Regions from separate parts of the Homo sapiens genome. Here region 1 is linked to region 2. The links come from fine-mapping of genetic effects on gene expression. A gene starts in region 2. The other region holds a variant in brackets. All regions are shown on one strand. Distances are between the middles of the regions.

Region 1 (4,394 bases), 82 kb after region 2:
GAACAAGGATGACACAAACAGGAAAATCAAGCAGGCTGGTAGCAAATTGGGGAGCAGATTCTGGATTTTATTTCTTCAGTTCAGGCAGCACAGAATACAGTAGCGTGAGCTGGGGAGGAAGTAGGTGTGTGCTTTGGAGTTCCCAGGGCAGCCATGGATCTGCAGAAGAAAGTCTCTAAATGCCATTAAGGAGAAAGATTTTGGGTTTCCTGACACCAGAGCAGAGGGATTCTCCAGGCAAGACTTCAAGCTTTTGCTGGAACCTCTCAGCTATTCAGGCAGAATCAGAAGGAAGAGGAAGTCAAGGTCCACTTCAGCAGCAGCCTCCAGAGTGCTGGCTGCTGCCCCCACCGCAGCAGCTGGAGCCCCCCGAGGGCTGGCTGCAGCAGTCAGAGCTCTGGGGTCTGCGACGGTGGGACCTGTGGCGCCTGTGGTGGCTCAGGCAGCAGCCACCACCCCCAGAGCTGCAGCAGCCCCCAGAGTTGGAGCCACAGCCGCCCCCAGAGCTGGAGCCACAGCAGCCTCCGGAGCTGACACTGCAGCAGGAAGAGACTGGAGGGCACTTAGGGGGACATTTAGGGGCGGGGCACTTGGGAGTGCACTTGGGAGTGCACTTGGGAGGGGGCTGGCACTGCTGCTGGCTCTGCTGGCAGGACATCTCGGTGGTGGGTGTTCAGGAGCTGAGGGAGAGTCAAATAACAAGTCAGACCCAGGCAGAGGCCACCTCTGCCCCTGTGACACTCTTAGCACCTCTCAAGTTTAAAAGCATCATCTTCAGTAGTTTTATTTCCAATAATTTCCTCAAAATCTCACATCATCTTTTTCAAGATATCTTTGGATGTCAGACAACTGTAAACTAAGACTAAACAATATTGCAAAATGCATCTAAGATTCTGATGTGTTGTCAGTGGAGGAAGAAATTATTACAAATATATCTTAAGACTGAAATTGTCTAATTTATGAGTCATTTAAGAGAAAATTATTTTTAAAGGAGAAGAAGCAGTCATTCTCTCTGGTCATAATTTGCAAGACGATTTTACTTTGGAAGGTCAGCATTGTGCAGGATCTTGGAGACTACTAGGTCAGTAAACTCACTTCAATAGAGACAGATAAACTTAGCAGTTTCTGCAGACTAGTACTTGAACCCTGACCCCCTGATCTCAGGTTGGAGCTCAGACTTCCTCACTCACCACCTGCTCAGGCTGATGGGATGACACGGTGGGTCTCAGGCTTGGTGTGTCCTAACCAAGCTGGGAAGTTTGTGAACAAATCTCAGACCCATGAAAATGTGGGGTTCATAAACCCCAAAGAGTCTTTAGTCCCATGTCCACAGCTCCAGTTCTTCCCTTGCAGGCAGAGACAGGGTTGTATCTTCAGAGGTGGGCTTCCCTCCTGTGGGCTGCCAGAGTGGAGCAGGTCTCTGTGCTTCAAAGTTCCCACTCTGGAACACCCACCTCATCCCAGAGCAGTTTGTTTCCTCTAGAGTTCAAAGGCACATGGCACAGCCCGCCAGCTCTTTTCCTCTTTTCCTTCCTGCTCCCAGTTAGTGCCAGACCCCTTTTGGCCCCCGCCCCTTCAGTCTTTTCTAAACTCTCCACCTCTGACAACATGGCCCTAGCCCCGGAGGCCCTGCCCCTCCTTCCCTCCTGCTCTGTTCTGAGCATCCCTGCTCTGTTCTTACCGGAGTCACAGGCAGCACAGGGTTCTTTAGCACCTCAGGAGGTGAGTGGATGGGGTGGTCTGGCCCTGAGCCCTTTTATCCTGGCCTGGGCTCTGCCCCAGCTGTGAGACAGGGCCTGGGCATGAGAGGACCTTCCTTCTGACACCCACGTGGGTCTTGTGATGGTTGGTGACTGACAGCTCCTCACCTGCCTCTCTCCCCAGGCTCAAGGCAGCCACTCCCAGGTAGGAAAGTGCCTACTTGAAACGGGGTTCCAGGATGACTCCTACCATCACCTACCTCATTCACTTGAAGGCTGCTTGCCCTGAGAGCCTCTCAGTTCTCAGTCTTAGAACTTAGGACCTATCTCATTTCTGTCTCTTCCGAAGTACCTGATGCTCCGTGCAGCCTGGGTTGAAGTTGAAGTACTAATCCCTGAGGTTTCCATGCATGTTTATTTCTGTCCCTGTGCACCACCAAACTGTGTGGCTGTGGGTGCAGTGTAGACATCTACACAAGTAAAACCCTGGAAGTATAACCCGGCCCAGGACCAGGCCCTGCGAGATGGGACTGTTGAAACTATTTAGCCTGTACCATTTTTTAAACCATAAAGCTGGAAGATGAAAAAGAATTAGTTACAGAAGAATTAGTTGGTTGTGAAAGTCAATAAAGTAACACAAAAAAGAGAAAATGTGCCTGACAGAGAGACTGAAACATTGTAGGCTCTGAATAAGTGAAACATTCATAACTTGCTGAATACAGAATGAAGATACTGATCTTTGTTTAACAAACGAAGCACAGCTTTTTTCTAATGAGAGTGAGTCTGGCTGTTTGGTGATCTGTTTGCTTTTAAATAGCCCTTTTCTTCTGGTGGGGTCCTTGATGTGTCAGCACTGAGATGTGAACAAGGAAGCAGCTCATTAGAGAAACAAGAAGCAGCAGCTCTGCTCTTTGTATTGGTGTGAGAATTTGGACTTTTCTGGGTTCACACTGGGAGCACCGGATGATGGTCACAGATGAGAAACAGGAAGAAAAGAGACATGGTTGTGAGACATTATAAGTCTA[C/T]GCTTCCATGTGGGGTCAAATGGCTGGCAGAACCCCGTCCTGGACCATAAGGGGACGGGTGCCTTTTAAGAACAAGAGTCCTTAATATTTAATGTGAATGTGTTTATGCTGCTACTTTGGAAGCCCCTCTCCTCTCTCTCCACTAGAATCACTAGCTTTCTACATGTCCACAGGATTTATATGAATGGAGTGTTCTGAATTTATACATTTTTAGGATATTAATGAAATGGGCTGCTGTTCATTCTAGGACACACTAGTCACTAAGACAGCCATGACTGCAAGGTTATCCACAAATTAAACTATTTCTTCAGAGGAAGACCAAGAAAAGCCAGATTAAACCATATGAGGGACAAGTCCTCTTCTTCCCAGCCCCTGACAGACTCTGGATATGCCCAGAACTTGGGAATGATATCTAGGTCAAAATGGACATGGTGACCCTAACCAAAACGTGGTGGAGATACATGTATATTTATAAACACATATACAGAGCATACATATTGAGAGAGATGTATATGTGTGTGTACCACCTGTCTCAGAGCATCAATTATTACAGCTGCCCAGACTCCTGTGATAACGTAGTATCTCCAAACACTGTAGTGTGTCTTTGATTCTGTTCTTTTATGACATCCAAGAAAACATCTTCCATCCCTGTACATAATTAACACTAAATCATTAGTAAAGTCTTGTTCATGATTGCACACTGTATAAGGGTAAATGTCCAAATTCCTTCAGTGAAATAAGACTCTGTGTTCTCCCTTTAGTTTAAGCCTTTGTCATCTACTCTCAGAAATGTTCTGAAACTGAACTGGATTATATTCTGTACTTTGATTATGCTTCTCCCTGCAGTGCATGCCGTGGCCTCTACCCTTCCAGGACAGTGTGGCTCAATCCCACTTTTTTATTTATCCTTCATGTGGCATATCACTCTAATGAGATAACAGTAAATGCTTTGATGGCCTGCCTTGGGTGTTTCATACTTCTTACCTCCGTTTTTCAACACAGAGCTATGTGCACAATGGATATTTAATGACTTTTAAATGCTCTCATTGGTATTAGCATTGATTTACAGTTTATAAACAGCTATTCCTTATGACTCAGGCCACCCTCATAGGAGACACACTCTGAGACAGGCTCAGTGAGGTGTGTGGGCCACATCACCCTGAGAGGTCTGACACCATCCCTCCTGGGTATGACATTTGTTCTCCTGCTCAGATTGTTCCAAAGGGCTTAGTAATGGGGGAGTGGTCAGGACATTGGTTCCCAGGTCGTCACAATGGCAGGTCTACTCAGAAGTTCAACTCCTGGTATCTAGGATGATAGGGCTGGGATACCATCTGGTCCATGCCTCTGTCTTCATGCAGGGCAACACCCAAGCTCTCAACTGACATAACTCAGATGTAGGTGTTGAGTCAGCAACATAGTTGTATTAGGAAGATTGGAACTTGAATCTTGGCTATGAGATATCATGGCTTAGCTATTAGGTCAAATAAGATATCTTGTCCAGCAAAGCACTGACTTTCTGAAATTTCCTATTTGTCAAGGTTTTTCTCTTTTAGGTAGTCAAAAATTCACCGTCTCATGGGATGTGAGTGAATACTATTGCGATCTAACCAGAAATAATTCAAATGGAATAATTTTTTGTATGTGTTCTATAACCAGTAACAAGTTA
Region 2 (4,394 bases):
ATTGGGAGGGAAGAGTTATCTCTTAAGGCCCTGCCACCTGGTATAAACCTTTCATGATCCTAAGTCCCTGGCTATATGGCTGCAGCCTGAACTGGGTCAAGGGCAGTTCCCACCTAAAAAGGGGAGAGTGACTTGGGTTAGGATGTTGGCTTTAATTCAGTCATGACTCTATCTCTGCCAGTTATTCCTGGATTCATCCTATCTTTCAGGAAAAGGCCCCTGCTTCCATTTAAGAGGAAGACACTAGAGCAAAGACTCCTAAAGGATGGGGGTGGGGACAAGTCACCCTATTGCTCCTTCTAGGTCAGAGGAAGCTGCAAAGAGGCTGAGGTGGCAGATACAGGCCCTGCGATGCCTTGACTTGCCCGAGAGAGAACAGGAAGGAGAGAGGTGAGCAATGGAGAGGCACACCAAAAATGGAAATAAGACGGAGACAGACCAGTATAAAAATAGGGAAGAGGTGAGAGAGTACAGGGCCATGTTCTCTACCACCTTTGCAGTGTTCAAAGCTGTTTGACAGGAAGTGTGTGTGTGTGTCCACACGCACACACAAGCACACACTTGGGTGCCCCTGCAGCTGTACAGTGGTGAATTTGGGTGTGCCGGGGTATGCAGGGAGCCCAGTATCTGTCCGTATCTCCTTGTTGTTTGAATCTGCTCCCTTAGAGGTCAGACCTAAGACTAGGTTTTGAGAGGGACGAGGGAGGAGTGAGCCCCTTCTGTTTTTATTTTCTGTTGTTCCTCTCTGTGTTTATTTTTGCCTTTTGCTATTTTTTTTTCCTCTCTGCCTCTCTATCATTCTCTGGTCTTCATTCTGTCTCTACCTTTCTGTCTTTTGTCTCTGGTTTACCTTTCTCTACTCTGAAGGTCAGTGCCCTGAATTGACCAAAGTGCAGAGTCTCATCACCACTTGGAAGTCCAGTTTGTTAGTGTCCATCTTTACAAGTCCAGACTGAGCTGTTTCTACAGAAGCAATTCTCATTCCAGTGATCAGAGGTGCAGAGGCATCAGAGGCACCTGGAGCCCAGGTCCAGGGGCTTGCCTCACCAGTCCCACCAATGTCCCCACTCCAAGCATGTCCCCCATAGTGAGATCCTGGGAATAGGTCCTGAATGTGGAGGTTGTGCAATATCAGAGAAGGACAGCAGGTTGGAAACCAGTCTTGTTGACTGTAGCATAGGGAGGGCAACATCAAGTCCTTCTGCAACCTCACCCCCATGGATGCAGGTCCTGCCCCTCTGAGCCAGTGCTGTCTCCACTGTCTTCCTTCTGCCTGGTGAATAGTATCTATATCCTCCACTTTCAGAACCCTGGCTCCTGTCCAACAAACCTGCCTCCTGGACCCCTCTGCCTCCTGCAAGAGTTTCTTCTTAAGATTCTCTCCTTGGCCGGGCACAATGGCTCACACCTGTTGTCCCAGCGCTTTGGGAGGCTGGGACGGGTGAATCACTTGAGGTCAGGAGTTTGAGACCAGCCTGGCCAACATGGCAAAACTCCATCTCTACTGAAAATACAAAAATTAGCTGGGTGTGGTGGCGTGCACCTGTAATACCAGCTACTTGGGAAGCTGAGGCAGGAGAATCACTTGAATCCGGGAGGTAGAAGTTACAGTGAGCCGAGACCTCACCACTGCACTCCAGCCTGGGTGACAGAGTGAGACTCCATCTCAATAAATAAATAAAAAGAAACAAACAAATAAATAAATATTCTCTCCAAGCTCCATTTCCCTTCCTTCCCAACCATGCTGTGCACAGCCTGCCTCAGGAAATCTGCCTAATCATGTCAAACACTTGTGGTGCAAGGCCAGGGCCATCTTCCTAGCTCTTATTGCTCTATTCAGAGAGGATTGATACAGAGCCCAAACCACCAGGAGGGCTCTGGCAAGGCACCTTCTCCCTCTGCCCACAGGCCCAGCCTCATGTCCAAACACTGTTCCCTCAGGCACCAGACTGGCTCAGAGCAGACACCTGCTGAATTTTCTCACCTCTTTCCAGGTCTTTGAATGTGCTCTTTCCCAGCTTAAACCACCCTTCCTGGGTCTCTGTCCCCACATGCTCACTGAATATCGTTCAAACCTGAAGTCTCTGCTTACACATCACTCCTCGAGGAAAACTTCCTTAACCCAAAACCTCCATCTCCCTGAAAGGCTTTCTTGGATCCCCTGTACTTCCCATTACATTTTTATAGTGGTTATTATTTTCCCAATTGTCTCACTTTTGTGGTCTGTTAGTTCCATAAACACAGGCATTCTCACTATCCCCACCCCCAGTGGCTCCCATGTCTTCCTCTTAAATAGAAGCAGGAGCTTTTTCCTGAAAGATAGGATGAATCCTGGAATCCTCTCATCCAACACACTGAATGGCATTGCATGGGTCTCAGTAGGTAAATACGTAATGAACTAATGAACACATGAAAAAGCCATGGAGAGAGGACCCAAAAGACAATGTTTCTCTGTGTTACCTGGTCTGGCCACACACACAATTCACAATTTCCATGCTTGACTTCTCATGACTGATTCCAGTAGGTATTATTGATCTTCCTCAGCAGCCTAGTGAGTCCATGACTATCAGAAGCCAAAGCCTTCTGAACCAGATGGGTTCCCTTCCCTGCTAATGCCAAGATTCTAAGCCTCTATGACACCATAATTCTCTCCACAAGACTCTATGCCTAGCTCACTCACTGGCGCCCCCTGCCTGCTGGAGAGTCTGTCTCTTTGGTTTCTTTCCTGAAAGATAAAAAGAAAGCTCCCTAGCTAACCCATAAGCATGCAATAACCTAAAACACAAATCTGTATTGATTGTCTCCTATCTACCAGGCTCTGTCCTAAAAAGTGAAGTGTAGCTCAATGGGATGTAGTTCCCATTCTCAAAGATCTAATTCAATATGGAGGCAAGTCAATAGCCAACAATACCATGTGATAATAATGATGGTAGGATAAGCACAGGGGTCAGGTTTGGGGGTCAGATATGCTTCCTGGAGGGAGTGATATTTAAGCTGAGACTTGGAAATTGGAAATAGGAAGTTGGACATAGGGGTGTGTCTGGGAGGACATTTTCAGATCCAGAAATGTGAAAGTATAGGCTATTTGGTGGAAAAGCTCAGTGTGGCTGGAGCAGAGTGGGGAGTAAGGAGAAGGGGGAGATTCACCTACCTAGGTAGGTAAGGCTGTGTTGGTGAGGACCTTTATGCCATAAGAAAAAGAGTTTGGACTTTATCCTGAGGACAATGGGAACCACTGAAAGGTTTTAAACAGGGGAGAAACTGGGATGCCTTAGGGGCCAGGACCCTATTTTATTCACTTTGATATTCCCAGTGTCTGGCTGAGCAATTGGCACATAAAAGATTCTGAAACTGAATCAATTGAATAGTGAATTGACTAAAATAATGATAAGAGAGAAGCATTTCATTATGTTTACTCTTTCCTTTTCTTCCTGTAGCATGGCCTCTTTGAGGACAGTGACTAGGAAATTCTGTTCTTCTGGGAAGCATGCCTGCCATAAACATTTGTAGGACACCAGGCAAGAGCACAAACAGAGGCTTCTGACCCCTGTGGTTCACCCCTGGTTCTCTTCCTACTCCCTGGCTTCATCTTGTGTCACGAGGGACCTCGGGCGTGCATGAGTGTAAATATCCTAGTCCATACCGTCCATGTTCTTTTCATACATGGATCTCTCAAACTGCCCCTCTCTTGGTCATTGAGACCTAGAAGTGAGCACAGTATTGGCTGTTTGAGTCTTCAAGAGGATAGACACATAAAGGTGATCTCAGGGCCAGTTGACAGAGATTTCTGGGGTCCTGGATAGCTGGAGTGAGAGAGACAGCAGCTCTGGGCCTGTACCCTGGACCTATTGAATCATCCTATGGGGGTGGGTCATGGCTGGAGGAGAGCCAGAGAAGGACTCTTTAAAGTCTGAAGTCCAGGACAGAACCACCTCGGCCAAAGGGTAGCACTCTTGGGAAGTATGTGAATTGTGCTTTTCATTCTATAATAGCCTATTCAAGTATTTCTCTTTTACTTGTCTTCTTCAGGTCTTCATGCTTATAGTTATCTCTAAAATTTATTCTCAGTAAAATGTCTACTCTTATTCACATCTCCCAAAGTCTCTAACATTGTAGTTGGGACCAAAGCCTTAATCTATAAGAATTAAGTTCTTTCTAGGAAGAGTACGGAGAGGGAGAGAGAGGTAGAGTGAGAGAGAGAGGTGGAAATGGCCAACAAATCTATGAAGAAATGCTTATTCATAACTAAAGGAATGCAAACCAGAAGATCAATGAGACACTGGCTTTTCTATGACAGTCTGGCAACAAATATGAAATTTTGATCACATTAGTTGTTAATGAATATGTTGAGAAACAGGTATTTTCATATTCTGTTAATGAGATTTCATTTTACA

Evidence for each region. PIP is the estimated chance that this variant, and not a neighbour inherited with it, causes the effect.
Region 1: its variant is the best candidate, but not a certain one, in a credible set for the expression of SMCP in cerebellum (GTEx, PIP 0.64).

The regions. Positions count from the first base shown.
Region 1 is chr1:152,794,059-152,798,452 of GRCh38, reverse strand. LCE1D (late cornified envelope 1D) reads right to left here and starts at 1,732. Exons shown (of 2, transcript NM_178352.3): 1 at 1,682-1,732; 2 at 272-680. The coding sequence starts at 658. The coding sequence ends at 314. The variant C/T (reference allele first, on the strand shown) is at 2,726.
Region 2 is chr1:152,876,513-152,880,906 of GRCh38, reverse strand. SMCP (sperm mitochondria associated cysteine rich protein) reads right to left here and starts at 2,585. Exons shown (of 2, transcript NM_030663.3): 1 at 2,461-2,585. RefSeq lists enhancers at 1-39, 400-459, 590-669.